Homo sapiens: one gene and its partners. The protein of the gene in region 2 purifies or fractionates together with the protein of the main gene of each other region. This does not show direct contact. Each region holds a gene or a part of one and is shown on either strand. Other genes may lie near its edges.

Evidence for each region.
Region 1: the proteins of ZC3HAV1 (region 2) and DDX24 purify together in Homo sapiens (affinity purification with mass spectrometry; 3 studies listed by BioGRID and IntAct, with this or other methods). This does not show direct contact.
Region 3: the proteins of ZC3HAV1 (region 2) and NIP7 purify together in Homo sapiens (affinity purification with mass spectrometry; 2 studies listed by BioGRID and IntAct, with this or other methods). This does not show direct contact.
Region 4: the proteins of ZC3HAV1 (region 2) and GLYR1 purify together in Homo sapiens (affinity purification with mass spectrometry; 2 studies listed by BioGRID and IntAct, with this or other methods). This does not show direct contact.

The regions. Positions count from the first base shown.
Region 1 is NC_000014.9:94,078,203-94,085,099, forward strand, and holds the start of DDX24 (ATP-dependent RNA helicase DDX24), read right to left. Parts: upstream 3,001-6,897; 5' UTR 2,917-3,000; intron 1,546-2,916; 5' UTR 1,541-1,545; coding exon 823-1,540; intron 1-822. UniProt on the Homo sapiens protein: ATP-dependent RNA helicase that plays a role in various aspects of RNA metabolism including pre-mRNA splicing and is thereby involved in different biological processes such as cell cycle regulation or innate immunity.
Region 2 is NC_000007.14:139,099,689-139,106,720, forward strand, and holds part of ZC3HAV1 (zinc finger CCCH-type antiviral protein 1), read right to left. Parts: intron 1-7,032.
Region 3 is NC_000016.10:69,334,809-69,342,803, forward strand, and holds the start of NIP7 (60S ribosome subunit biogenesis protein NIP7 homolog), read left to right. Parts: upstream 1-4,963; 5' UTR 4,964-5,021; coding exon 5,022-5,077; intron 5,078-5,197; coding exon 5,198-5,284; intron 5,285-5,385; coding exon 5,386-5,524; intron 5,525-6,371; coding exon 6,372-6,512; intron 6,513-6,724; coding exon 6,725-6,844; 3' UTR 6,845-7,995. Other genes in the region: COG8 (conserved oligomeric Golgi complex subunit 8), read right to left, coding at 1-540, 1,697-1,904, 4,368-4,744.
Region 4 is NC_000016.10:4,802,685-4,809,302, forward strand, and holds the end of GLYR1 (cytokine-like nuclear factor N-PAC), read right to left. Parts: intron 2,627-6,618; coding exon 2,552-2,626; 3' UTR 519-2,551; downstream 1-518. UniProt on the Homo sapiens protein: Cytokine-like nuclear factor with chromatin gene reader activity involved in chromatin modification and regulation of gene expression. Acts as a nucleosome-destabilizing factor that is recruited to genes during transcriptional activation.

The DNA of each region.
Region 1 (6,897 bases), on a different chromosome or scaffold from region 2:
CACTACACCATTTTATATCAGAGACTTGAGCATCCCTGGATTTTGGTATCCAAGGGAGGTCCTGGAACCAATCCTCCATGGATATCAAGAGATGACTATATGTATTTCTAATGGACACTGCTGGTCTAAACAGACCAATAGTTCCAGGCAGTACTAGTTCCTCCCCCAAGTCAGCAGTCTAGTCTATCCAGCAAAGTCAACCTGTCATTGCTTCCAAAAGTCTCGCAGGAACCTCAAACACAGCATAGTCCTAACACTTCATAGCTGAATCTGTTTACAAAATCCACCCAATGACTACCCACCACACTCAAATCCTTCCAATGACAAGAAACTCATCAACTCCCAAAGCAGCAACCCTTTTCACCTTTGCACAACTCCTGAGAATTAGACAGTTCTTCCCTATACTCATGAAGATCTACCTCTCCAAAGGGCTGATCTTAGCCTTGCCTTACCCCTTTGAGCTATTTAGAAAAGGCTCAAGAACAGCAGAAACTACGATTTGCAGACCACTTCCAATGTACAGTGTAAGCTTTAGTTTACTGTGGCATTTAACCCTCACAGCAATGCAAGAGGTAGAAACTGTTATCTCCATTTGGTTGATAATGGGGTCTACAGAGCTGAGAGAGATAAAAGTGATCTGGCTAGGATACCATTCAAGAAGAGCATATTTCAAACCAGAGGGGCTGACTTCTAAACACCTTTATTCAGCGTTGCTTTTGTGGTTATGTTCTTCAACATTCTTCTCTCTCCCAATTATCTGGCCTATTAGCAGCTATGGGCTCAATCCAGAAGCAATCCTGCTTTGGCCAGAGTTGCCCTTACCTGTCTCAGCAGCCCCAAGGATGTCCAGTTTGTCACGGATGGCAGGTGCCAAGGTCAGGGCTTGGATTGGTGTGGGTGCAGAGAAGCCTAGAAAGCTGAGTGCTCGGAGAACCGGCCTGGGAACAAACAGGTCCTTCCAAGCTGACACATCTGCTTTCTGATCATGAACTTCAGGAATCCATGTCTTCGCTTTTTTGGGCACCTTGGCAGCAGTGCTCTGAGAAGGCTCCAACCCTTTTTTCCCTTTATTTTTCTTCTTTTTTGGAGCAGTTTGGACCAGGTTTTCTGATGTCATCTCCCCAGCCTCCGGATCATCACAAACCATGTCATCTCCCTGGGCCTCCAGCTCAGGATCTTTCACTTCAAATTCTTTCTGGGTACTGGTTCCTTCAGTTGCTACATTTTTACTTTTCTTCAACTTGATCTTTTTCTTTGGTGAGCTAGACTTTCCCTCCTCCTCCTCCTCTTCTTCTGAAACAGCTTGTGCCTTTCTCTTGGGTGCTTCCTTTGAGAAGAGACTGGAGGGATTCTTGGCAGGGGAGACCAACTGGTAATCTGTCAATTCCTCAAAGCACACCAAGTCATCCATCTGTCCATCTGCAAACATATTTGGGTCAATCTTCACTTCCTTCCATTTTCCCACAACTTTGATTCCCTTTGTCTGAAATTTGCCACAGCTTGACTGCTTTGGCCTTGATTTTGTGTCCTTCAACTTCATGGTTGCTGAAAAGGAGATACATGTTCTATTAGGTTGGTGTCTGAGAAGCAGAGGGTTCTGATGTAACAAATATTTTCTAAGCAACTAGGCCCTACAAAGAACTGAGGATACAAAGATGGCTATCACACAGTTGCTCCCACCTAGAGAAGAACAAAGAATACCACAGAACAGACAGCTTTGCCTGGAACACAGGGTACACATGTGATGGAACAAAGACATATGAGCTAGACCTGGTTTGAATTCCAAATCCAACACTTACTGCCTGTGTGACCTTGGATAGTGCCACCCACTCCTCTCTGAACTTCAGTGCTCTCATCTATAAAAAGGGGGGAGGGTACCTAACAATATCTAAGTTGTACATTTTATGTAAATAAAGAAAATTATGTAAAGCACGGAGGATGAAACCTGCCACACCTAAGTCGTTCTGAAGGCAGAGTAAGAATCTCAGGGGTTTTTCTTGTGGGGGCAGGAGGGGTGAGCTTTATTAAAAGCGTACTGCGCTTGCTTCCTTCTCAAGCCTTGCCTGAGAGAGCAAATGCCTGCTCCACCATCCTTTCCTTTGCCAAGCGTCTTAAAACCCATCCAGTTTCTTCATCATATTTTAAGTGGCTTAATGGCCATTTAGGCCCAACTCGTTTGGGTGGAACTCGATCCAGGTTTTTCCTTTTCAGAAAGGCCAAGAAAGATAACAGATTCCGTGAAAAAGACCAAGGTAAACTTTGGTTCAAATCCAGATCCACCACTTGTCAGCTGTGGCTCTGCGGTGGACGTATTAATCTCTGAGTCTCTTATTTCCCAGTCTGCACAATGGGAAAAACGAGGACATCTGTCCCACAGAATCCTTATACGCCACTACGAAAAAGTGACGCACGTCAAAAAAAACCGCTGAGCATGGCGCCCGGCGAGGAGAGCACGTTCGCACACAGTGCCCGCCGGACCCGCTGCGCCACGGCAAAAAAACAAAAAACAAACAAAAAAAAACACAAAGAAACACGCGGGGTTCAACAAGGAGAGGGCGAGGGGTGCCACGCGAACCGGGCGAGGACACGGAGAGCGCCAGGCAGAGTAGAAGGGCCTCTGTCTCCTCGTGACGCCGGTCCCGCGCGGCCCTCTCGCTTTGTCTCAGGCACGAACGCGCGCACGAAACCGAGAAACCGAGAAGCCGAGAAGCCAAGGCCGTCAGGCTCTGATGACCGGACAAGGAGCCCAAGGCGCGGGGACCGTGGCACGCAGCTCGGTTGGACGGCTTGGGCCGGCGGCCGCCCTCTCTGGACCCGGGAACCCACCGGCCCAGAGCGACCCGCGATAGGAACCCGGGTTCCTGGCCTCAGCCCCTCTCCAGAGTCGGCTCCAACCCCGCTCGTTTTGGTACTCACCGTGTGGAGACGCCACCGCAGCTCCGTCAGTCGCGAGTGAAGAACCTCAGAAACCGCCGCTGTACCTCAGCTGCAGCAGCAACTGCAGTTCCGGGGCGGGACCTCCACGCACGTACTCGTGCGCGCTGGGGAGGAAGTCCCGCCCCTATGGCAAACTCAGCTACCTGATTGGCTGCCTCGCGGACCGCAGCAGTGCCGGCGGGAGAGCTGGCTTGGGGCGCTGGCACCTCCTCTTACAGCTTTACTCCTGCCAGCTTGGGAAAAGGCCGGAGAAGGTGAAATTCTGTGTGCTCCCTCCGGCGAGAGACTTTGTCAGCTCCCGCACAGTAACGTAAGTTTTCTTGTATTCTTAGTGTAGTTTCGTTACCGGAAAGGGGTCTCGATCCAGACCCCAAGAGAGGGTTCTTGGATCTTGCACAGGAAAGAATTCAGGGTGAGTCCGCATAGCAAAGCAAAAGCAAGTTTATTAAGTACTTTACTCCGTAGACAGAGTAGGGCGTTCCCGAAGGTAAGAGGACGAACGCGTCCATCCTAGGTACAATGCTCGTACCTAGATCATAGGGAGATGTGCTCTGCTACAAGGGTGACGTGTGATGAGTGTTCCTTGTATTGTAATTGTTTTGGGGCGCCATGAGCTGTGCCCATATAAGATACAAACGTAATTGATAAATGTTGTGTGTGTTCAGACTAATCCACTGACAGGCCGTTCTTCCTTCTCTCTCCCTTTCCTTGGGTCTCTATTCCCTGAGACACAACAGTGTTGAAATTAGGTCAATTAATAACCCTACAATGGGCCTCTAAGTGTTCAAGTGAAAGAAAGAGTCGCACATCTCTCACTTTAACTCAAAAGCTAGAAATGGTTAAGCTTAGTGAGGAAGGGATGTCAAAAGGCAAGATAGGCTGAAAGCTAGGCTGAAAGTTTGCACCAAAAAGTTAGCCAGTTTGTGAATGCAAAGGAAAAGTTACTGAAGGAAATTAAACATTTTACTCTAATGAACACATGAATGATATGAAAGCGAAACAGTTTATTGCTGATTTGGAGAAAATTTTAGTGGTTTGGATAGAAAATAAAACCGGCTACAGCATCCCCTAAACCCAAAACCGAATCCAAAGCAAGGCCCTGATTCTCTTCTATTCTATGATGACTGAGAGAGGTGAGGAAGCTATAGAAGTTTGAAGCTAGAAGAGATTATTTCATGAGGTTTAAGGAAAGAAGCCGTCTCCAGAACATGAAAGTGTAAGATGAGGCAGCAAATGCTGATGGAGAAGCTGCAGCAAGTTATCCCCAAGATCTAGGTAAGATCGTTGATGAAGGTGGCCACTGAACAGCAAGTAGTCAATGTAGACAAAACAGCCTTCTATTGGAAGAAGACGCCATCAAGGACTTTCATAGCTAGAGAGGTCAATGTCTGGCCTCAAAGGCCAAGCTCACTCTTTTGTTAGAGGCTAATGCAGCTAGTGACTTTGGATTGAAGCCAGTGCTTGTTTACCATTCTATTATAAAAATCTTAGGTCTCTTAAGAATTACGCTAAATATAATCTGCCTGTGCTCTGTAAGTAGAACAACAAAGCCTGGATGACAGCACAACTGTTCATAGCATGGTTTACTGAATATTTTAAGCCCACTGTTGAGGCCTACTGCTCAGAAAAAAGGATTTCTCTCAAAGTATTATTGCTCATTGAAAATGTGCATAGTCACACGAGAGCTCTAATGGAGATGTATAAGGAGATGAATGTTGTTTTCATGTCTGTGAACACAAGATCCATTCTTCAGCCCATGGATCAAGAAGTAATTTTGCATTTCAAGTTTTATTACTTAAGATACATTTCGTAAGGCTATGGCTGCCATAGAGAGTTATTCCTCTGATGGATCTGGGCAAAGTATATTGAAAACCTTCTGGAAAGGGTTCACTATTTTAGATATCATTAAGAACATTTGTGATTCATGGGAAGATGTCAAAATATCAAAATTAACAAGAGTTCGGAAGAAGTTGACTCCAGTTCTCATTGATGACTTTGAGAGGTTCAAGACTTCAGTGAAGGAGGTAACTGCAGATGTGGTTGGAAATAGCAAGAAAACTAAAATTACAAGCGGAGCCTGAAGATATGACTGAATTGTGGCAATCTCGTGAGAAACTTGAATGGATGAACAGTTCCTTCTAATGTATGACCAAAGAAAGTGGTTTCTTGAGATACAATCTACTCCTGGTGAAGATGCTGGGAACACTGTTGAAATGACAATGAAGGATTTAGAATATTTCGTAAACTTAGTTGATAAAGCAGTGGCAGGGTTTGAGAGGATTGACTACAATTTTGAACATTCTACTGTGGATAAAATGCTACCAATTAGCATCACATGCTACTGAGAAATCTTTCATGAAAGGAAGAGTCAATCCATGCAGCAAACTTCATTGTTGTGTTATTTTAAGAAATTGCCACAGCACCTCACCTTTCAGCAACCACCACCCTAATCAATCAGCTGGTTTCAGAAAAAAAGAAAAGTATATTATGGCAGAGGGGGACACAGTCAAAATGTTAATAATTGGTGAATTATTGGTGCTAGAGTAAGGGTACGTGAGTGTTCATTGTACTATTCTTTCAACTTTTTTGAGGTTTAAAACTTTTCAAAATAAAGAGTTGAGTAAATTGTTTTGATTTAAAAATTATGAATTAAAAAGAAATTGGTTTAAGCCAGGTGTGGTGGCACATCCCTGTAGTCCCAGCTATCCAGGAGGCTGAAGAGGGAGGATCGCTTGGGCTCTGGAGTGTGAGTCCAGCATGGACAACATAGCAAGACATCATCTTTAAAAAAAGAAAAAGAAAGAAGGAAAGAAAGAGAGTCAATTTTAATTTTTAAAAATGGGGGAGGGGGAGATGTCAACCAAAAGCAAAATGATGGCAAAGTTTCCATTATAGTAGTGGAAACATAGGTATTTTTTTTCCTTCTTCTCAATATTCTAATTTTAAAAAATAGTAAGAATAAACTATTTTAATGTTATTCTTATTTCAAAGATGAAAAAACAGATGCAGGAAGATTAATTTGCCAGAGTCATACAGCTAATGTTACAGAGCTCAGACCTGACTTGGAGATCTGTGACTTTAACTGGGTGCAGTGGCTCACACCTGTAATTCCAGCACTTTGGGAGGCCCAGGCGGGTGGATCGCTTGAGCTCAGGAGTTCAAGATCAGCCCAGGCGACATGGTGAAACCCCGTCTCTACAAAAAATGCAAAAATTAACCAGGCTTGGTGGCATGCGCCCTTAGTCCCAGCTACTTAGGGGGCTGAAGTGGGAGGATTGCTTGAGCCCAAGAGGTCAAGGCTGCAGTGAGCCATGTTCATGCTGCTGCGGGATAATTAAGAAACCAAAGGGACCGAGGGGTTGAGGAGGAATTATTTAATTATTTAGGTGCACAAACCCAGTCAGATTAACATCCAAAGGACTGAGCCCTGAACAAAGAGTCAAGCTACCTTTTAAACATTTCGTGGGGCAGGGGGAGATTTGTGCAGTGGGAAGCATATTACAGAAGCGAGAAACAAAGACAGTTATTCAATTGAGACATGGCATTACATTATATCTTACTTTTCAAGGAACAACACGTTTTACGACTTGAGAGTATCTGTCTAGTGACCTTGCAGCTGCACAGCTAGAGAAACAGAGTCTTCACAATGCCTGGGAAAGGGAGAGATAAGGCTCACTAGCCTCAGAAAGAAAAACAGGCAGTTAATTTTAAAGGACTCCAGCCCTTTCTCTTCCTCAAGGGAAATTGGGTTTTTTTACATACAACCGAGTTTTTGCTTACACAGTTTTTAATTTCTTTTAATTCCTGTTCCAATGCCAGTATACTCAGCCTGAGTGACAAAGCAAGACCCTGTGTGGGGGAAAAAAAAAAGTAATCAAGATCAAGAAACCCTATAAGGAATGTGTCCCAGTTTCCAAGGGACCCATGCAGAAGCCTCCATTGCCAGTGGCTGAAGTGGGA
Region 2 (7,032 bases):
GGCCCAGGAGGGCAGATCACCTGAGGTCAGGAGTTCAAGAGCAGCCTGGCCAATGTGGCAAAACCCTGTCTCTACTAAAAATACAAAAATTAGCCAGGCATGGTGGCGCGTGCCTGTAATCCCAGCTACTTGGGAGGCTGAGGCAAGAGAATCGCTTGAACCCAGGAGGCGGAGGTTGCAGTGAGCTGAGATCACACCACTGCACTCTAGCCTGGGTGACAGAACAAAAAATAAATAAATAAATAAATAAATAAACCTCAAAAAAGTAAATAAATAAAATAAATAGTTTTAGCCATTTTTAAAATGGTAAAAAACAAACAAAAAATAAATACTTTATCTCAAAAAATAAATAAAAATAGTTTTAGCCATTTTTAAAATGGTAAAAAACAAACAAACAAAAACTGTTACAAACAAAAATAGAGTGCTATGATGACCAAAAAAGTAAAATGCGAATAAGAAGCAACTACTAAGATGCCAAGTAAGACAAACTTAAAAAAATGAGTAATAAGACTTAAAAGGGCTAGAGATCCAGAATATATAAAGAATTAAAACCACAATGAGGGCTGGGCGCGGTGGCTCACGCCTGTAATCCCAGCACTTTGGGAGGCCAAGGTGGGCAGATCACGAGGTCAGGAGATCGAGACCACCCTAGCGAACATGGTGAAACCCTGTCTCTACCCAAAATACAAAAAAAAAAAATTAGCCAGGGGTGGTGGCATGCACCTCTAGTCCCAGCTACTCAGGAGGCTGAGGCAGAATGGCGTGAACCCAGGAGGCGGAGACTGCACTGAACCGAGATTGCACCACTGCACTCCAGCCTGGGCGACAGACCGAGGCTCTGTCTCAAAAAAAAACAAAAACAAAAACAAAAACAAACAAAAAAAACCACAGTGATACAATTTCACATTCCTTGTATTGGCACAAATTTTTAAAAGCTGACGATACCACTTGGCCACTATGTGAGGCAAGGGAAGGCTCTTATTCTTCTGGTGGGAGTATAACTTGGCAAACACACTTCGGAAAACAATTTGGCATTATCACATAAAACTTTAAGAATCAAAATTCCACTCTCCCTCTCTTTCCACGGTCTCCCTCTCCCTCTCTTTCCACGGTCTCCCTCTCCCTCTCTTTCCACGGTCTCCCTCTCCCTCTCTTTCCACGGTCTCCCTCTCCCTCTCTTTCCACCGTCTCCCTCTGATGCGGAGCCGAGGCTGGACTGTACTGCTGCCATCTCGGCTCACTGCAACCTCCCTGCCTGATTCTCCTGCCTCAGCCTGCCGAGTGCCTGCGATTGCAGGCGCGTGCCGCCACGCCTGACTGGTTTTCGTATTTTTTTGGTGGAGACGGGGTTTCGCTGTGTTGGCCGGGCTGGTCTCCAGCTCCTAACCGCGAGTGATCCGCCAGCCTCGGCCTCCCGAGGTGCCGGGATGGCAGACGGGGTCTTGCTCACTCAGTGCTCAATCTTGCCCAGGCTGGAGTGCAGTGGTGTGATCTCGGCTAGCTACAACCTCCACCTCCCAGCCGCCTGCCTTGGCCTCCCAAAGTGCCGAGATCGCAGCCTCTGCCCTGCCGCCACCCCGTCTGGGAAGTGAGGAGCGTCTCTGCCTGGCCGCCCATCGTCTGGGATGTGAGCAGCCCCTCTGCTCGGCTGCCCAGTCTGGGAAGTGAGGAGCGCCTCTTCCCGGCCGCCATCCCGTCTAGGAAGTGAGGAGCGTCTCTGCCAGGCCGCCCATCGTCTGAGATGCGGGGAGCGCCTCTGCCCTGCCGCCCCGTCTGGGATGTGAGGAGCGCCTCAGCCCGGCCACCACCCCGTCTGGGAGGTGTACCCAACAGCTCATTGAGAACGGGCCATGATGACGATGGCGGTTTTGTGGAATAGAAAAGGGGGAAAGGTGGGGAAATGATAGAGAAATCGGATTGTTACTGTGTCTGTGTAGAAAGTAGACATGGGAGACTTCATTTTGTTCTGTACTAAGAAAAATTCTTCTGCCTTGGGATGCTGTTGATCTATGACCTTACCCCCAACCCTGTGCTCTCTGAAACATGTGCTGTGTCCACTCAGGGTTAAATGGATTAAGGGCGGTGCAAGATGTGCTTTGTTAAACAGATGCTTGAAGGCAGCAGACTCGTTAAGAGTCATCACCACTCCCTAATCTCAAGTACCCAGGGACACAAACACTGCGGAAGGCCGCAGGGTCCTCTGCCTAGGAAAACCAGAGACATTTGTTCACTTGTTTATCTGCTGACCTTCCCTCCACTATTGTCCTATGACCCTGCTAAATCCCCCTCTGTGAGAAACACCCAAGAATGATCAATAAAAAAAAAAAAAAATCAAAATTCCACTACTAGATCTCTAGGGAAACTCATGTACATGTACACAAAGAAGCATATACCAAAATGTTCAAAGCATAATGGTTTAATAGCAAATACTTAAAACAATATCAATTTTACTTTGTTTTTTCAGAGGCAGGGTCTCATTCTATTGCCCAGGCTGGAGGGCAGTGGCGCAACTGCACCTGACCGCAGCCTTGTCCTCCCAGGCTCAAGTGATCCTCCCGCCTCAGCCTCCTGAGTAACTGGGACCACAGGTGTGTGCCACTGTGTCCAACTAATTTTATTTTTTAATGTTTTTGTAGGAGCTATGTTGCCCGGGCTGGTCTCGAACCCCTGACTTCAAGAGATTCTCCCACCTCGGCCTCTTGAAGTACTGGGATTACAGATATTAGCTACTGAGGCCAGTCTCAATTTTAATAATAAGAAGATCAATATATAAATTGTGTACATTCATGCAAAAGAAAACAATGAAGACATTTCAGGGAATCAGAGTAGACCTTCTCTAAAATTGGTGGGGCCCAGAGCAAGGTTATAAATGGAGGCTTGGATACAAATGTCTAAATATTTAACAGTAATAAATCATGCTGAGCTGGGCTTAGTGGCTCATGCCTGTAATCCCAGCAGTTTGGGAGGCTGAGGCAAGAGGAATGCTTGAGCCCAGGCACTCGAGACCAGCCTGGGCAAAATAGTGAGACACTGTCTCTATACACACACACACACACACACACACACACACACACACACACACAAATTAGCCAGGTATGGTGGCACTAGCCTGGTCCCAGCTACTGGGAGGCTGACATGGGAGGATCGTTTGAATCCAGGAGGTGGAGGCTGCAGTGAGCCATATTTGCACCACCACACTCCAGAGTGGTGACAGAACAAGATCCTGTCTCAAAAAAAAAAAAAGTATATATATATGTATATGTATATGTATATGTATATGTATATGTGTGTGTGTGTTTATATATGATATATATAAAATAAAAACTTTAATACAAAAACTTTAAAATTTGTTGTAAAAAAATTTTTTTGGAGACAGAGCCACACTCTGTTGCCCAGGCTGGTGTGCACTGGCATGAACATAGCTCACTGTAACCTCAAAATTCCTGGGATCAAACAATCCTTCTGCCTCAGCCTCCAGCACTGCTAGGACTATGGGCATGCACCACCACGCCCAGCTAATATTTTTTATATAATTATTTTTATTTTTTATTTATTTTACTTGTTTTTTATTTTTTTATTTTTTTATTTTTTTTTTATTTTTTGATGGGGTCTCACTATGTTGTCCAGGCTAGTCTTGAACTCCTGTCCTCAATCCTCTCATCTTGGCCTCCCAAAGCACTGGGAGTACACCCATGAGCCACTGCACCCAGCCCAGGAAAAAAATTTTTTTTGAATTCAAATAATGACTATTTCAAAGCCTTCCGACTGGCATAAGCCAAAAAAGTCTGATAACACCAAGCATTAATTGGCCAGAAAATGAGGAAACTGGGACACTCAGACATATAAGTATAAATTGGCACAGCCACCTTTATACTAATTCGTCAGAATCTGGAAAAGTTGAAGCTATGTAACAATTCAAACCAACAATTCCACTTCCTAATGATCTACCCTGGAAAAGCTCTAACCATGAGCACCAGGAAACACTTGCACGTAAATTCTTGGCAGCACGATTTGGTATAACAAAAACCTGGAAATATACTATATATCCATTACTGGGGGGAATAGGTAACTGAACTGTGGTATAAATCCTATGATGAAATACTTTTCAACTGTTAAAATGAATAAACTAGGTCCTTGTGTAGCAATATGAATAGATCTCCAAAACACAGCATTGAATAAAAATTCTAAAACACATAAAATACTACATTTTGTATATGGATGCAAACATATACAAGAGGAAATTATAAAATCATGGAAGGACAAGATACACACCAAAATCATGATTGAAGCTGCTTCTTAGGAAAGGGAAATGAGACTGGGGATGAGAAAAAAATAACCTTAGGTCTGTTATGATTGTTTAGTATATTTTAAAAGAGGAGCAAAACTGAAAAATGTGAACACTTATTTATCCCAGGAGGTGAGTTATAACTTTTATGGGTTCAGAATAAATATTCTCTGATGCTTGCGTTTTTCAGTATTCTATTCAACTTGCGAAACAGTCAACTAGTCCTCTTCCCATCTACCCACCCCCACCCAAAATGTGAATTAACCGAAAAGGAAAGACATACAAACAGGAAAGAACCCAGAGGAAACACCCACATCGGCAAAAACCGCAAAGCAAGGTAAAGACCCTTAGGCAGCCTGCTTGAAACAGTTAACAGAAATCATGCAGGCAAAATAAATTTTTGAATTAATAACTTCATATAGTTACTGGACAATGTAAGTAGCTAGTTAAGAAGTCAAGGCCGGGCGCGGTGGCTCACGCCTGTAATCCCAGCACTTTGGGAGGCTGAGGTGGGCGGATTGCCTGAGCTCAGGAGTTGGAGACCAGACTGGGCAACATAGTGAAATCCCGTCTCTACTAAAATACAAAAATGAAAAAAAATTAGCCAGGCGTGGTGGCAGGCGCCTGTAGTCCCAGCTACGCGGGAGGCTGAGGCAGGAGAATCGCTTGAACCGGGGAGGCGGAGGTTGCAGCGAGCTGAGATCACGCCACTGCACTCCAGCCTGGCAACAGAGCGAGACTCTGTCACAAAAAAAAAAAAAAAAAAAAAAAAAGTCAAACAAGGCCGGGAGCGGTGGCTCATGCCTGTAATCCTGCACTTTGGGAGGCTGGGAAGATTGCTTAAGCCTAGGAGTTTGAGAGCAGCCCAGGCAAAATGGCAAAATCCCATCTCTACTAAAAAATACAAAAATTAGCTGGGTGTGGTGGCACATGCTTGTAATCCCAGCTACTCGGGAGGCTGAGGCAGGACAATCGCTTGAACCGGGGAGGCGGAGGTTGCAGCGAGCTGAGATCACGCCACTGCACTCCAGCCTGGGTGACAGAGTGAGACTCTGTCTCAAAAAAAAAAAAAAAAAAAAAGAAAAGAAAAGTTAGCCGGACATGGTGGCGCCCACCTGTAGTCCCAGCTACTCAGGAGGCTGAGGGAGGAGGATCATCTGAGCCTAGGAATTCGAAGTGGCAGTGAGCTATGACCGTGCCACTGCACTTCAGTCTGGGTGACAAAGCAAGATCTCATTTCTAAAGAAAAAAAAAAGGAAGTCATGCAGATCTAGGTTCAAATACCAATCCTGCCAGCTTCTAGTTATGTTACTTTCAGTAGATTTCTGAAAGGCTCCATGCCCGAGTTTCCTACAATAAGGATGGGACTTAAAATACTACCTTAGGAGCTATCCTAAAGACTAACCTGGATATCATCTCCAAAGTGCTTATCATAGTGGTTGGCACATAGTTATTTGTTCGATAAATAGTGATTATTTTTGCATCAGAAGTGGGATTAGAACTCCATGTGTGGGCATATATTTCAGCAAAGCAAATAGAAATATCCAAACCGATTCACCAAAACAATTATCCAACATTGAAGCAAGCCCTGTTGTCAACTAAAATGTATCACTAAAAACATTGCAAAAGAAAAGACAGGAACTACAGAATAGACAGGATAAATCCTATCTATAAATAATAGTACCACAGACAAAATTTTATACACCCAGCACAATGCAAATCGTCCCCCTGTAAACAGAGACCAGTTTAGTGAACTGAATAGTAATGTCAAGATGGGTATCAATTAGTTAACAGACCCCATTAACTGGTAATCTACAAAGAAAGTTCTTAAACTCACAAGTGGCAAGTTTTGGAAGACAAGGTTTTATTACTCGCTAAGAGGAGAATATTTTTAAAACATAAGTAGGGAGGAAAAAAACATGTTTTCTAGGACCCGAGGACAAAAAAAAAATTCTCCCAGAGGTCCTTATTACAACACTTTATACATTAATAGATTAAAAGTTTGTAATTCCCAAATTCAAAAGTGATATAAAATGAAATTAAAAATATGGCTCTGCCAATAAATGTTAGGAAATAAGATTTTATCACTCTACTAAAAAAAATAAACTTTATTGACTTCTCTGGAGGGTCCATCCAAATTTAGATAGACCAAATAATCCCTATATTATATATATTCTTATAAAAGTGGAGGTTAACAACCCAATTAACGAGTTTAAAACAGTTTTGCTGTTTCAAACCAGGGAAAAATATACCATAATAAACTTCATAAAACTAAAATTTCTAAGCATATTGCCTACAACAAATTGAAACAAAGTATTTAAATGTTAGATATGTAACATATGAAAACAATTATAGGCCAGGTGAGGCAGTGGCTCAGGCCTGTAATCCCAGCACTTTGGGAGGCCTAGGCCGGCAGATCGCTTGAGCTCAGGAGTTCGAGACCGGCCTGGCCAACATCGCGAAACCCCATCTCTACTAAAAATACAAAAAATTAGCCAAGCATGGTGGCACACACCTATAATCCCAGCTACTTGGGAGTCTGAGGCAGTAGAATTGCTTGAACCTGGGAGGCAGAGTTTGCAGTGAGCTGAGATCGGGTCACTGCACTCCAGCCTTGGGTGACCCTATCTCAAAAAATTTTAAAAAAATCTTTTTTTAAAAGGATTATGTCTATGTATCCTTTTCCCTGAAAATAAAAGTTGGATTTATAAGACAATCAGGGAAATTTGAATACCAACTGGACAATA
Region 3 (7,995 bases), on a different chromosome or scaffold from region 2:
GGCCACCCGCTGGAAAACAGGAGCCAACTGACCCCGGAAATCAGCTCCCACCCGGCTGAAGGACAGCCCAAAGTACATGCACTGGCCCAGCAGAGAGTCCAGGTGGCCGCCTATGCCCCGGTAAAGGTCGGTCTCCAGCACCTGCAGGAATTGTGAGACCTTCTGTAGCACCCAGCCATGGAAGATGGCACTCTCATTCACAGTGTGCTCACCCATGGCAGGGGGCAGCAGTGGGTCCTCGTCTGAGAAGATGGCACGGTACTGGGTGATGATATCAAAGAGATGGACACGGGAGGCCTCGATGGTTTTTGTAATATGGAAATAGGGATCATCATTAGGAATGGCAGTCAGGATGGACCGGAGCCAAGCATCTCGGGCCTGAAGAAACTTCACCCTCAACTCAGCCTCAGTGAAGACGTCCATGCGCCGCAGGTAGCCAATGACACGGAGGCAGGCAGGAAGCTGGATGTTGGTCCTCAGTTGCTGGATCAGCTGGCTCAGCATCAGCTGCATGGACTGGCGCACTTCGTTCACGATGCCCTGACAATACACAGAGAGAGTCACACTGCGCTGGGAAGGATGCTCTCTAGAACCCATTCCCCTAACTCTGAAGACTGCAGACCAACATTCCCATGGCTTTCCTGAAATGTGAAGTAATTTCCTAAAGCTGATGCCTGTAGGTTCACCAACAAAGATCAGGTTAGTTAACTCTCTTGCTTAAAAAGCTTAAAACCTGGCCAGGTGCAGTGGCTCAAACCTGTAATCCCAGCACCGTGGGCAGGCAGGTCACTTGAGGTCAGGAGTTTGAGACCAATCTGGCCAACATGTGAAACCTCGTCTCTACTAAAAATATAAAAATCAGGTGGGTGTGGTGGTGCAGGCCTGTAATCCCGGTTACTCGGGAGGCAGAGGCAGGAGAATCACTTGAACCCGGGAGATAAAGGTTGCAGTGAGCCAAGGTCGCACCACTGCACTCCAGCCTGGGGGACAGAGCGAGACTCTGTCTCAAAAAAAAAAAAGAAAAAAAAAAAAGCTTAAAATCCTCCAGTGACTTCCCACTGCAATCAAGAAAATTCCAACCACTTGTTGGGACTTACACTGGTGGCCCTACCTGGCTCTCCATCTTCACCTGCTTCCTAGTGCTCTCCCGCTGCTACAATCCATTAACCCTGGCTGCCTCTGTATCCCTTAAACACCTCAATTTCTGCCCACTTCAGCCCTCTCTACTTGTTCTTCACACTTTCTGGTTTGCTCTCTCCCCAGATCTTTGTGGGCTGGCACCTCCTTCTCATTTAGGTCTCAGCTTAAATGTTACCTCCCTAGAAGAGTCCTTCTTGATCACCCTACCTAAAGAAACCTACCCTAGACTCCCTTACCCCATTCCCTGTTTTTTTCTTCAGACACCACTATCTGAAATGATATCATTTCTTTGTCAATTATCAGACTTCCCATTAGCACGTAAGCTGCATGAGAGCCAGGACCACTTTATTCACACTGTATCCCCAGCATATAGAGCAGTGCTTGGCACATGATTAATATGTATTTTGAATAAATGAATGTTTTCTGTTCAGGCATACCTGGCTGGCAGAAACTGATGTGAAACATGCAAGAGTTTCTACCTAAAGCTTCAGTCCTGACCACAGAATAAATGATTACAAGAACATTACTTTGAGTCCTCTCTGGGCAAGGTGGCTACCTGGATGACAGGGATGGAAGAGTATTTCCTCTCCAGTCGGCGTACGTAGGCTGCAAGCTCCAGGGCCTCTTCATAATAACTGTTCCGGACACAGGTGTCCATGAGCTGAGGAATCTCCAGTATTTCCAAAATTTCTGTGTGCCGGTTTAGGGTCAGGCTATTCATCCGGCGGTTGGAGCTGATCTCCTCGGCTTCCTTCACAAAGTTCCTAGTAATAATCAGAAGAATGTTGATCCTTCACTGCTCTGTACCCAAACCTTAGCTACAGTTACCAAGTACCTGCTATGAACATTGGGCTGGATGATCTATCTGATTTATTCCTCACACCCCACCTATAAGGTAAGTATTATTACAATTGAGGAAATTTTTAATCCCAGAGAGGTTAAGCAACTTGTCCAAAAACATACAATTAATAAATCTAACAGATGGAGATCCAGATATGCCACTTGCTGGCTGTGGCAAGGTACTTGGCCTCTCTGAACCTATTTCCTCATTAGTAAAACGGTATATAGGGCCAGGCGCAGTGGCTCACGCCTGTAATCCCAGCACTTTGGGAGGCTGAGGTGGGCGGATCACTTGAGGCCAGGAGTTCAAGTGAAACCCCATCTCTACTAAAAATACAAAAAATTAGCCAGGCATGGTGGTGCGCGCCTGTAGTCCCAGCTACTCAGGAGGCTGAGGCAGGAGAATCACTTGAACCCAGGAGGTGGAGGTTGCGGTGAGCAGAGATGGCGCCACTGCACTGCAGCCTGGCCAACAAAGCAAGACTCCGTCTCAAAAAAAAAAAAAAAAAAAGTATATAGGACCCTCCTCATAAGGGTGTAAGAACTAAATGAGATGATGTGTGTGAAGCATTTAACATAGAACTTGAAACAGAGCGAATGCGTCAAAGTAAAAATAGTAAAAGAGACACAGTTAAATATTTAACAGTAGCTATCATTATTTTCAAAATGAAGCACTAACTGCCTAGAATCCACAATCTTTCCCCTCAGGTCTTCATCTTCTCCTATGCTAATGTTCAACCATAGTTCCTGCCACAGTCTACTTTCAACACTTCTCCATATTTGCAGAGACCTGCTTTATCAAGTCCCCTATCTATTCTGGAGCATGGAAGGGTACAAAAGCTGCTGTCAAATATCCAAAGGCTCAAAAGAAAAATTAAACTTTAATCATGAAAGGCTGGAAGGCAGAACTAGGGATAATGGAGACAGAATATGACTCACAAAGGACTTTTTTTTTTTTTTTTGAGACGGAGTCTTGCTCTGTCACCAGGCTGGAGTGCAGTGGCACGCATCATCTTGGCTCACTGCAACCTCCGCTTCTCAGGTTCAAGTAATTCTCCTGCCTCAGCCTCCCGAGTAGCTGGGACTACAAGCGCGTGCCACCACGCCCAGCTAATTGTATTTTTAGTAGACATGGGGGTTTCAGCATGTTAGCCAGGATGGCCTCGATCTCTTGACCTCGTGATCCGCCTGCCTTGGCCTCTCAAAGTGCTGGGATTACAGGTGTGAGCCACCGCACCCAGCCTTTTTTTCTTTTTTTAAGAGAGTTTCACTTTGTCACCCAGTCTGGAATGCAGTGGCACAATCACAGCCCACCGCAGCCTCGACCTCCCAAACTGGAGTGCGGTGGCACAATCATGGCTCACTGCAGCCTCAATCTCCCGGGCCCAACTGACCCCCCCACCTCAACCTCCTGTGTACCTGGGACTACAGGCGCACGCCACCACGACCAGCTAATTTTTTATTTTATAGAGACAGGGTTTTGCCATGTTGGCCAGGCTGCTCTCGAACTCCTGGGTTCAAGCCTCAGGCTCCCAAAGTGCTGGGATTACAGGCTGAGCCACCACATCCAGCCATCCAAATGGAGAGACTTTTTGATATCTGATGCCCTCAAATGCGAGGATTTCCTTGTCACCTTCCCGTCAATGGAAGTTTTGAAGCAGATGACCTCCGGTCCACGCTTTCGTATAAAATAAGTATATAAATGTGCACATATATTCAGCTCACACCTATAATGTTAACTGTGTCAGACCCGATAATAAGAGCTTTGCATGAATCCTTTTTCTTTGTGCCCACAACTGCCCTTCGAGGGAGGGACGTGCTTCTGGGTAACCAGTTCTGAATTCGAAACCTCCTAGCTGTGTCCTTGGACGTCACTAATCTCTGTCTTGACTTGCTCATATGTAAAATGGAAATAACAGGGCTGGGCGCAGTGGATTATGCCTGTAATCCCAGCGCTTTGGGAGGCCGAGGCGGACAGATCACGACATCAAAAGATCGAGACCATCCCAGCCAACATGCTGAAACCCCGTCTCTACTAAAAATCCAAAAAAATTAGCTGGGCGTGGTGGCGCGCGCCTATGGTCCCTGCTACTCAGGAGGCTGAGGCAGGAGAATCGCTTGAACCCAGGAGGCAGAGGTAGGTTGCAGCGAGCCGAGATCTCGCCACTGCACTCCAGCCTGGCGACAGGGCGAGACTCCGTCTCAAAAAAGATAAAAAAGGAATAACAGTACCTATCTCGAAGGCTGTTGTGAGGTTTAAATGGATTAATAAAGCGCTCAGCAGAGAACCTGGAACGTGGTAAACGCTTTATGTGTTAGTTATTTCTACCATCGTAAATGTCAGCTTTTACAGTTATAAAACCCCTTTAGCGCCAGGCGCGTCGCACCTGCAGCTCTGCTGGAAGCTGGGCAAACGGTCGAGCAGGCGGCCGAGCGACGCCTCCACGTCGCCAAACAGGCGGTGGATGCGCTCGGTGCACTCGGCGCCGCGGATGAAGGTCTTGTAGTTAGCGAAGGCCAAGTCGCGCGTCTGCTGCAGCAGCTGCGCCCGCTCCTCCGCCAGGCGCTCGGGCTCGCGCCGCAGCCGCTCCAGCCCCGAGCCGCTCAACTCCCGGAGGTAGCGGCCCACATCGGGCCGCTCGCGCCACTGGGCCTCGGGGAAGCGGTCCCGGAACAGCGACGCCAGGAGCCCTTCATCCTCCACCTCGCCGAGAGCCGCTGCTGTGGCCGTGGCTACCGATGGGATAGTCGCCGCGGTCGCCATCTTCCCAGCAACAACGTCACTTCCCTTCCGGACCACAAGGGGCGCTGACTCCGAACTTAGGACAGGAAGAAACAGGCACATTTCCGGTCTCTATGCTTTCTCATCCGGCCGGCTTGCTTTCCCCTGCGGTCGTCCAGACTATTGGGCGCTAGCGAGACGAACTATTGGTACGGGGCTAGAGAGGAAGGCTTTGGGATTGCCGGGGAGCAGCGAGCGACCGACTTCCGTTTCCAGTTACCAAGGCACGAGGATCCGGTGTTCCAACCCAGGGGGAAAAATGCGGCCTTTGACTGAAGAGGAGACCCGTGTCATGTTTGAGAAGATAGCGAAATAGTAGGAGCGCGCGGGGCGGACGCGGGAGTGTGTGGGTGTGGTGGCCAAGGGTGGAGTGGGGGCGCGGTGCCGGAGACCGGTTCGTTCGGGCGCGGTCTCCAGTCCTCTTTTTGCCCTCAGCATTGGGGAGAATCTTCAACTGCTGGTGGACCGGCCCGATGGCACCTACTGTTTCCGTCTGCACAACGACCGGGTGTACTATGTGAGGTGAGGCGGGGCCGGGCAGGCAGCATGGACCCAGGGGAGAGGGGTCCTGGGTCCCACGAGCCTCCTTCATCCGCAACCTTGCTCCCCCTTTACCCTTTTAGTGAGAAGATTATGAAGCTGGCCGCCAATATTTCCGGGGACAAGCTGGTGTCGCTGGGGACCTGCTTTGGAAAATTCACTAAAACCCACAAGTTTCGGTTGCACGTCACAGCTCTGGATTACCTTGCACCTTATGCCAAGGTTTGTGGGGCGGTTTCCAATTCTGCCACGGGCGATGAAGTCAAGGATTAGGCAGATTGTCCGGCAGCTTCTCTCCCACAGAGTCCCTGACAGTGTGCTTGGAGGAGTTTCAGCACATGGAGATGTGTAGAGGTCTTGCAGCTTGAGCATGGTCAGGGCTATGGGATAGGAATGCTATGTGGCTGCGTAGGGTTAGTTTTCTCCAGCGAAGTAGAAGAGCCTAGGGAGACCCAGCTAGAGATCAGAAAGCAAATAAGTGGCAGCAATGAAGACACCGGGGTCCAGAAAAAGAGCTGTTAACCTGGCCATGGAGGATGATCCTTGTAGAGTTGAGAAAATAACTTTTTCTATTTTTTTCTTTTTCTTTCTTGCTCTGTTTTTTCTTTTCATTTCTCTTTCTCTTTCTTCCTGACACAGTTTCACTCTGTCGCCCAGGCTAGAGTGCAGTGGTGCGATCTCACTGCAGCCTCCACTTTCCAGTTTCCAGTGATTCTTGTGCCTCAGTAGCTGGGATTACAGGCATGTGCCACCACACCTGGCTGATTTTTTTGTGTGTTTTTAGTAGAGACAGTGTTTCACTGTGTTGGCCAGGCTGGTCTCGAACTCCTGGCCTCAAGTGATCCACCTGCCTTGGCCTCCCAAAGTGCTGGGATTACAAGCGTGAGCCACTGCACCGGGCAACTTCCTGCATTTCTGTTCAGGAGATAGACAGTTTGAGGAAAACATGAGTCTCTCTGTTTCCCTTAAAATTATTTCAGAAAATTATTCACAGATCCAGCAGCTAGCTTGTCTGCATGGATAGAAATAGTAACGTTTTTATGTCTCTTGGATTTTAATTCTCTTATAGTATAAAGTTTGGATAAAGCCTGGTGCAGAGCAGTCCTTCCTGTATGGGAACCATGTGTTGAAATCTGGTCTGGGTCGAATCACTGAAAATACTTCTCAGTACCAGGGCGTGGTGGTGTACTCCATGGCAGACATCCCTTTGGTGAGTAGAGATGGTAGCTGTTACAGAACTCAAGTACTCTTATTCAAGAAGGGTATGTCTTCAATCTGAGTGCTTGAGAGAATAAATTCTCAGCACGTTTTGAATCCCAGAAAGACCAGAACTGTATTTTTTCCGTCTTTGTTATTTCCAGCCCTCAATATGGGCATATTGAATGACTTCAGTGAGTTAGTGTCTCTTCTTTTGAATCCCAGGGTTTTGGGGTGGCAGCCAAATCTACACAAGACTGCAGAAAAGTAGACCCCATGGCGATTGTGGTATTTCATCAAGCAGACATTGGGGAATATGTGCGGCATGAAGAGACGTTGACTTAAAACGAAGCCATTCCAAGGACAGACGGCTGTATGGAAAGGCCGAGCTTTGTTTCCTGTGTTTGTGTGGACTCCACCATCATGTTGAATTTTGTCAACACTCTGGCCTCTTCAGGGACTTCTTATTTACTGTACTCTCTATCACTGACAAATGCAGGCTGGATTCTTATTATATACAGAGATGGCTCAAAAATGGGGTTTCAGATCTTTGTGACGAAATAGAATACTGTTTCATATTTGAATCAGAGGGCTTCTTGTTCTGAGAAATAGGTTCAAAATCATTGGAACCAGGAACAAGAATAGCTTATTGTTATCTGTGATAACACTGTTTTCTAAACACAAGGATTTTCTTTTTTATTAATATGCAACATAGACATTGCCATAACAGAATAATAAACCACATGTGGGGTTTTAAAAATGAAATTTGGCTAATAGGAGCAATTCAGCTATTTTTCTATACAGTAATTGGTGTGTGGTATAGAAGAAAAACGGGTTCAAACCCCACTTCTGCCACCTACCAGCTATATGGCCTTGAATGAGTCATTCAGCTTTAATAAGGTTCATTTTCTTCTGTTTAAAAAGACACAAAACTTGAAAATCAGCTTTGGCCATCTACCTGAGAATTAGAAAGTCTGATTTTTGGAATTAGAAATCATGATTGTAGGCTGGGCACAGTGGCTCGCGCCTGTAATCCCAGCACTTTGGGAGGCCAAGGCGGACGGATCACTTGAGGTTAGGAGTTTGAGACCAGCCTGGCCAACATGGTGAAACCCCATCTCTACTAAAAAAAAAAAAAAAATTAGGTGTGGTGACACATGGCTGTGGTCCTAGTTACTTGGGAGGCTGAGGCAGGAGAATGGCTTGAACTGGGGAAGCAGAGCTTGCAGTGAGCCAAGATGGTGCCATTGCACTCCAGCCTGGGCGTGACAGAGTGAGACTCCATCTGATTGTAAAGCATCTAGTACAGTGTACAGTGCCTTGGAAATGATAGGTATGGAATAAATGGTAATTATTTTTATATTATATATATTATGTATTCCTGTTATTAAGTGTAGAGTTTTATGAGTATAATTTGATTTTATTACCTTCTTTTTTACAAGCTGTTTTCTCAGTATTTTTCTTGGATGGGATGACGCTAGGCTGGAAAGTTTTTT
Region 4 (6,618 bases), on a different chromosome or scaffold from region 2:
CACCCGATTGGCGGAGCGGGTACCACCCCGCCCCCAGGCCGGCTCCGTGCTCGCGATTGGCTGGCGCCTGTCGGTCCGCCTCGGCCCCCGAAACCTGCGGGAGCCCTGGAACCAGACTGGCGGCTGCGGGAGTGAGGCTCGCTCCGCCTGGCCAGGGACGCGGCCGGCGGCTGCACGAGTCAGGCTTGCTCCGGCTGGCCAGGGACGCGGCCGGCACCAGCCTGGGGCGCCCGCTTGGGGGCGGAGCTCCCGGGGCGCCCCCAGGATATGATAGGGCGCTCTGCTCCACTCGCGCTCACTCATTGGCCGGCAGGACAGTCTGTCCCCGCTCCTCCTCCCTATTGGCCCGCTTGGCTCCATTGGTCGTGGTTCCAACCCTGCCGCGGACCTCGCCGCCACTCCCAAGTCCGTCTCACCCCGGACGCGGAGGTCCCGAAAACCCACCCCGGCCCCGCCGCTGCCTTCTCCTCCCACCCATCTCGCCGAGGACGAGGGAAGCAGGACTCCTGCGGCACAGCTGTGTTACCAAGAAGTGTTTTATTTTTCTTGCAGTAGCTTTGTTAATTGCACAAAATCATGTTTTGTTTTTGCCATTTAAACATTATCACACAATCCTATTCTGAAAGACAAATGTTCATTAAAAACAAAGCAAAAATAAAAATTCACAACCTTAATTACCTAGATTTGTCATTTAAAGGTTTAAAGAAAAAAGGGAGGGGCTTTCTTACAAGCTTTTTCACAAGTGTCACATTTTCTCCTTAAAAGGGAAGGATTTCAAAAGAAAGGTGAAATAGCTTAAACAGAAATATTCATAAAAAGGAACTTTACAGAATTGTCAACAATATTAAGACAAAATTGACTAACCGGTTTCATTACCGCATCTTCCCCCGCCCCCACCCCCAGTGTGTTCCGCCAGGACTAGAACAGGCTTTGTGTTCAGACAGAAATGCTTCAAAATCCCAGTGAAATGAACTGTGCTAAAAACCCGACAGGCATCTTCCCTGCCCTCCCCCCACTCGTCTTCTGCAATCCTCTAACCCAGTTTCTAATCTCTGAAAGGGGCCAAAGCTGTGAGGGGGGAAGGACCCCGCCCTAGTGTGGCCACCCTATATATAATTACATATTGCATCGTAAATGCTGGCCTTCCTTCTGCAAATTATGATTTTGGAAAATCCAACCCATGCAGAGGGATAAAAAACTGACATCCCTTGGGTAACTTTTTTTTTTGCAACATTCCAAGCCCCCCCCGGTCCCCTATCCAAGGACAAATGTAGGGCCTCTAGGATGTCCCAGACCCACCTCGGAGGGCCAGTCAGTTCAGGTAGGTCAGGCCCAGTTCTCTTCCCTCCCGACAGACCCCGGGCCCGGGAAGCACCGAAGACCATGATGCTGGCTGGAGTGAAGACACTCGTTTCCGTATCAAGAGCTGAGCCTAAGAAATGCTCATCGTTGGTCAGGCTGGGTCTGGGCCAAAGGGACAGACAGAAAGAAATACTGTCTCCACGGGAGGAAGAGGGAGAGGAGGGAGGATGGAGAGCGGTGGGCATGCAGGGGACTTGGCAGGGCAGGGTGGAGAAGGTGGGACCACTGGGAGGGGACCGAGGTAAGAGTGGCTCTTCAGAGCCAGGTGAAGAGTCTGTGGCCTAACGGAAACAGAAAGGAGCGCCCCCAACCCCCACTCCTCTTGGCTCATCACTAGTGGCCCTGAGGACTCCCTCCCAAGGGATGGAATGCAAATCCAAATACTAAAACAGCCTAGGGAGGAGCGAGCGCCCGCTGTGGCAGTGGCATCTGGGGCATGGCTTCGAGGCGGTGAGGGCCGGGCCTCCATGCTCACCTGCAGGCCGGCTGCTTGCTGCACTCCCTGGAAAGCCAGGGCCCCATCTTCTCGGGACTCTGCCAGTCTCTTTTCAGTTCACAAAGGCGTCTATGGAGCGCTGGGTGCACACTGGACGCTTAGACGTGAACATCTTTCTCAGCTCATCACCTGAGGTTGGAGGGCCCCAAGGGCCCCTCTGTCTGGAGTCTGTACTGGCTCATCTGGGCCCAAGGCCTCTCCTTGTAGGGAATCCAGTGGGGGATGGGGACATGACTACAGCCTCTTCGCTCTGGGGGAAGCTGTGGGAAGGCTTCCAACTCTCGTTGCTGATTCTAGTTCCTTGACTGGAAGGGGTTTGAGATAAGACAAGCTCGGAAGAAAAAAAGCCAGGCAGCAGTTTCTGGGCAGCTTCTATCCTGGGGCGAGAGCCTGTGTGTGTGTGTGTGTGTGTGTGTGTGTGTGTGTGTGAACACACAGCCACCTCGTCCGGGGGGCCAGTGCCCAGCTCAAGAGCTTTCCCACACGCCAATCCTGCTGACACTTGTCCCCTCCCCACCGGCCTCAGGGGAAGGGTGCTGCTGTGTGCTGTGCTGATGGCAAGTCTCAAAGTCTGTATAAAAGGAAATGGAGATAGGTGGGCTGGTCCAGAATGAACTCCCAGGCCCCCGACCCCATGTGAGGAAGAGGGGGTCAGAGGGGGGATTGGAGGGGTGAGGGCGGGGTGTCGACAGCTTAGTGTATGTAGGCTCGGTACACGGCGGACATATCGTTGTCAGACTGGTCCAGCGCCTTGGCTCTTTTGTACACCTGGAAAAAAAAGAGATGGCTCAGTCTCTGGCCCCAGAGCTGCCTTCAAGACCTAGACCTGATTCCTGGAGGCAGTGGTGGATGTGGCCAGCAGGCAGTGCTGGAGCCCAGGCTGTCCGGTTAGGAATCCTGTGTTGACCTTGCATGAAGCACCTCCGTTTCTCTGGACCTCAGCCACTGTGCTTCTTGCTCTGGGAGAAGGAACAGTACCCGGGGGATCTTGTGAGAATGAAATACACTATGGGATATAAAACATTCAGCATTGGCCGGGCACTGCGGCTCATGCCTGTAAGGCCGAGGTGGGTGGATCACCTGAAGTCAGGAGTTCGAGACCAGCCAGGCCAAAAAGGTGAAACCTCATCTCTACTAAAAATACAAAAATTAGGGCCAGGCGCAGTGGCTCATGCCTGTAATCCCAGCACTTTAGGAGGCCAAGGTGGGTGAATCACGAGGTCAGGAGATCAAGACCAGCCTGGTGACCGTCGTGAAACCCCTTCTTTAAAAAAAAAAAATACAAAAAATTAGCCGGGCATGGTGGCAGGTGCCTGTAATCCCAGCTACTCAGGAGGTTGAGGCAGGAGAATAGCTTGAACCTGGGAGGCGGAGGTTGCAGTGAGCTGAGATCACACCACTGCACTCCAGTCTGGGTGACAGAGCGAGACTCTGTCTCAAAAACAAAAAAAGAGCAAAACTGTCTCAAATAAATAAATAAATGAATAAAAAATAAAACAAGGGCAGATGAAACACCCAGGACACCTATACCTCAGAGTGAGAGTTCTCACACCTGTGGTGCTTCTGCCCCCAGGGGACATCTGGTAATATCTGGAGACATTTTCTGTCACCTGAGGAGGAGCTATGTCACTGGCGTCTGGTGGGTGGGCTACCCAACATCCTGCAGTGCTTGGATAGCCCCCCCACACAGAATGGCAGCAGTGCCGAGGTTGAGAAACCCTGCCTTAAAGGATGAGGGAGAGGAAGGGGGAAAGAAATGCTTCTGTGTGGTTGCAAAGTTTTTACATTTAATGGGAAATGGTACAAGATTAACTGTCTTTTTTTTTTTTCTTGAGACAGGGTCTTGCTCTGTTGCCCAGGCTGGAGTGCAGTGGTAGGATCATGGCTCATTGCAGCCTCGAACTCCTGGGCTCAAGCAATCCTCCTGCCTCACCTGCCTCAGCCTCCCAAGTAGCTAGGAATAGGGTGCTCGCCACCACGCCCAGCTAGTTTTTTATTTTTTTTTGTACAGATGGGGGTCTTGCTATGTTGCCCAGGCTGGTCTCAAACTCCTGGGCTTGCTTAAGCCTCGACCCTGCCTCGACCCTGCCTCGACCTCCCAAAGTGCTAGGATTACAAGGATCACAAGTATAAGCCACTGTGCCTGGCAAGATTAACTCTATCTTAAGGATTTATACCGCAATCTGTAGAGTAACCACTAAAAAAAGAATGCAGAGGCAAAGTAAAAAAGAAAATAGATAAATGAAACTGGAATTCTTTTTTCTTTTTTTTTTTTTTGAGATGGAGTCTTGCTCTGTCGCCCAGACTGGAGTGCAGTGGTGTGATCTCGGCTCACTGCCAGCTCTGCTCTGCCTCCCGGGTTCACGCCATTCTCCTGCTTCAGCCTCCCGAGTAGCTGGGACTACAGGCGCCCGCCACCACGCCTGGCTAATTTTTTGTATTTTTAGTAGAGACAGGGTTTCACCCTGTTAGCCAGGATGGTCTTGATCTCCTGACCTCGTGATCCACCCGCCTCGGCCTCCCAAAGTGCTGGGATTACAGGCGTGAGCCACTGCGCCTGGCCCCTTTTTTTTTTTTTTTTTTTTTTGAGACGGAGTCTTGGTCTGTCGCCCAGGCTGGAGTGCAATGGCACGATCTCGGCTCACTGCAACCTCCGCCTCCTGGGTTCAAGTGATTCTCCTGTCCCAGCCTCCGGAGTAGCTGGCATTAATAGTGCCCGCCACTATGCCCGGCTAATTTTTGGTATTTTTAGTAGAGACTGGGCTTCACTATATTGGCCAGGCTGATCTCGAACTCCTGACCTCAGGTGATCTGCCCGCCTCAGCCTCCCAAAGTGTTGAGATTATAGGTGTCAGCCACCGTGCCCAGCTGAAACTGGAATTCTAAAAAGAAAGTAAGAAAGGAGGAACAAACAAAAGACAAAGACAACGAACAGAAATCAAATGATAAAATGGCAGCCCCAAATTGAACCACATATCAATACAACTACTAAAGGTCAATGCACCAGTTAACCTTCAGAACCTAACCTCTGAACTCCTAACAGTATAGAGTCTAAGCTCATACCATCCAAACGACCTGAAAGCAGCGAGCTGCATTGAGAAATTAACCTAAAAACTCTGCTTCCAAGCCAATGAATCCTGTAGTCAGGGTGGAGGCAACTTGGAAGTCACTTCAAAGAGAAGCTTTCCCAGCCCAAGCCACATGAAACCCTTGGGAAATAACTATAGTCAGAAATGAGCTTTCATCAAAAAAGACTTATAAAATACACAACGAATTCTACTATCCAGAGAGAATCCACTGGTAGAATGAACAGGGGGGACTTGAAATAGTAATGTAATCTGAAAGAGTCATGAAATAAGTACTCTGAAATGTTGAAACAGACAAGAGACAGAAGACAGAATTTAGGAACAAGGCTGCATGCGGTGGCTCATGCCTGTAATCCCAGCACTTTGGGAGGCCAAGGCAGGCGGATTACTTGAGGCCAGGAGTTCGAGTCCAGCCTGGTCAAAATGGTAAAACCCTGTCTCTACTACAAATACAAAAATTAGCCAAGTGTGGCGGTGCATGCCTGCGGTTCCAGCTACTTGGGAGGCTGAGGCAGGAGAATCACTTTAACCCAAGAGGTGGGGGCTGCAGTGAACTGAGATCATGTCACTGCACTCCAGCCTGGGCAACAGAGTGAGACTCTGTCTCAAAAAAAAAAAAAAAAAAAAATACAATTCAGGAACAGAGAATTATACTATGAAAAGCCAGGTGTCAAAAGAACAGTACTGGCTGGGTGCCATGGCTCACGCCTGTAATCCCAGCACTTAGGTAGGCTGAGGTGGGTGGATCACCTGAGGTCAGGAGTTTGAGACCAACCTGGCCAACATGGTGAAACCGTATCTCTACTAAAAATACAAAAAGTTAGCCAGGAGTACTGGCAGGCACCTGTAATCCCAGCTACTGTGGAGGCTGAGGCAGGAGAATCACTTGAACCCAGGAGGCAGAGGTTGCAGTGAGCCGAGATTACACCATTGCACTCCAGCTTGGGCAACAAGGGTGAAACTCGGTCTCTAAAATAAAATAAAATAAAATAAAATAACATAAAATAAAAGTGTATCAGCTGATAGTACTTTAAAAATACAGCTGCTGTTTCACAAAGTGTCATTTTTATTATAATAATATGGTAAAGACAAATGTTTTTCAGTTGTTTTTTTTTTAGATTCAAATTCTATGAAGATGAGCTAAGAAAGCGGAACTTCTACCCTAAAAAGCTTTTCGAAAGTGTATGTGAAGTTGGATACAGTTGTGCACGCCTATAGTCCCAGCTACTCGGGAGGCTGAGGTGGGAGGATTGCTTGAGCCTAGGAAGTCAAGGCTGCAGTGAGCTATAATTGTGCCACTGCACTTTACCTGGGCAAGAGAGTGAGACTGTGTCTCAAATATAAAAAAAGTGCACGTGTTAAGTGCTTAAAACATCATTTGAAAAATGCTAATAGACATGCTAATTAAAAGGCAGATACTGTCAAAATGGATAAAAATCCAAACCCCAATTACATACTGTCTATCAAAGCCATAATTTAGACATAAATAAGAGAGGAAATGGATGGAAAAATATACATACCATGAAAACAATAAGCCTGAGAAGGCTGTAGCAGCTTTCGTTTTTTTTTTTTTTTTTTTGCGATGGAGTCTCACTCTGTTGCCCAGGCTGGAGTGCAGTGGTGCGATCTAGGCTCACTGCAACCTCCCGCCTCCCAGGTTCAAGCAATTCTCTG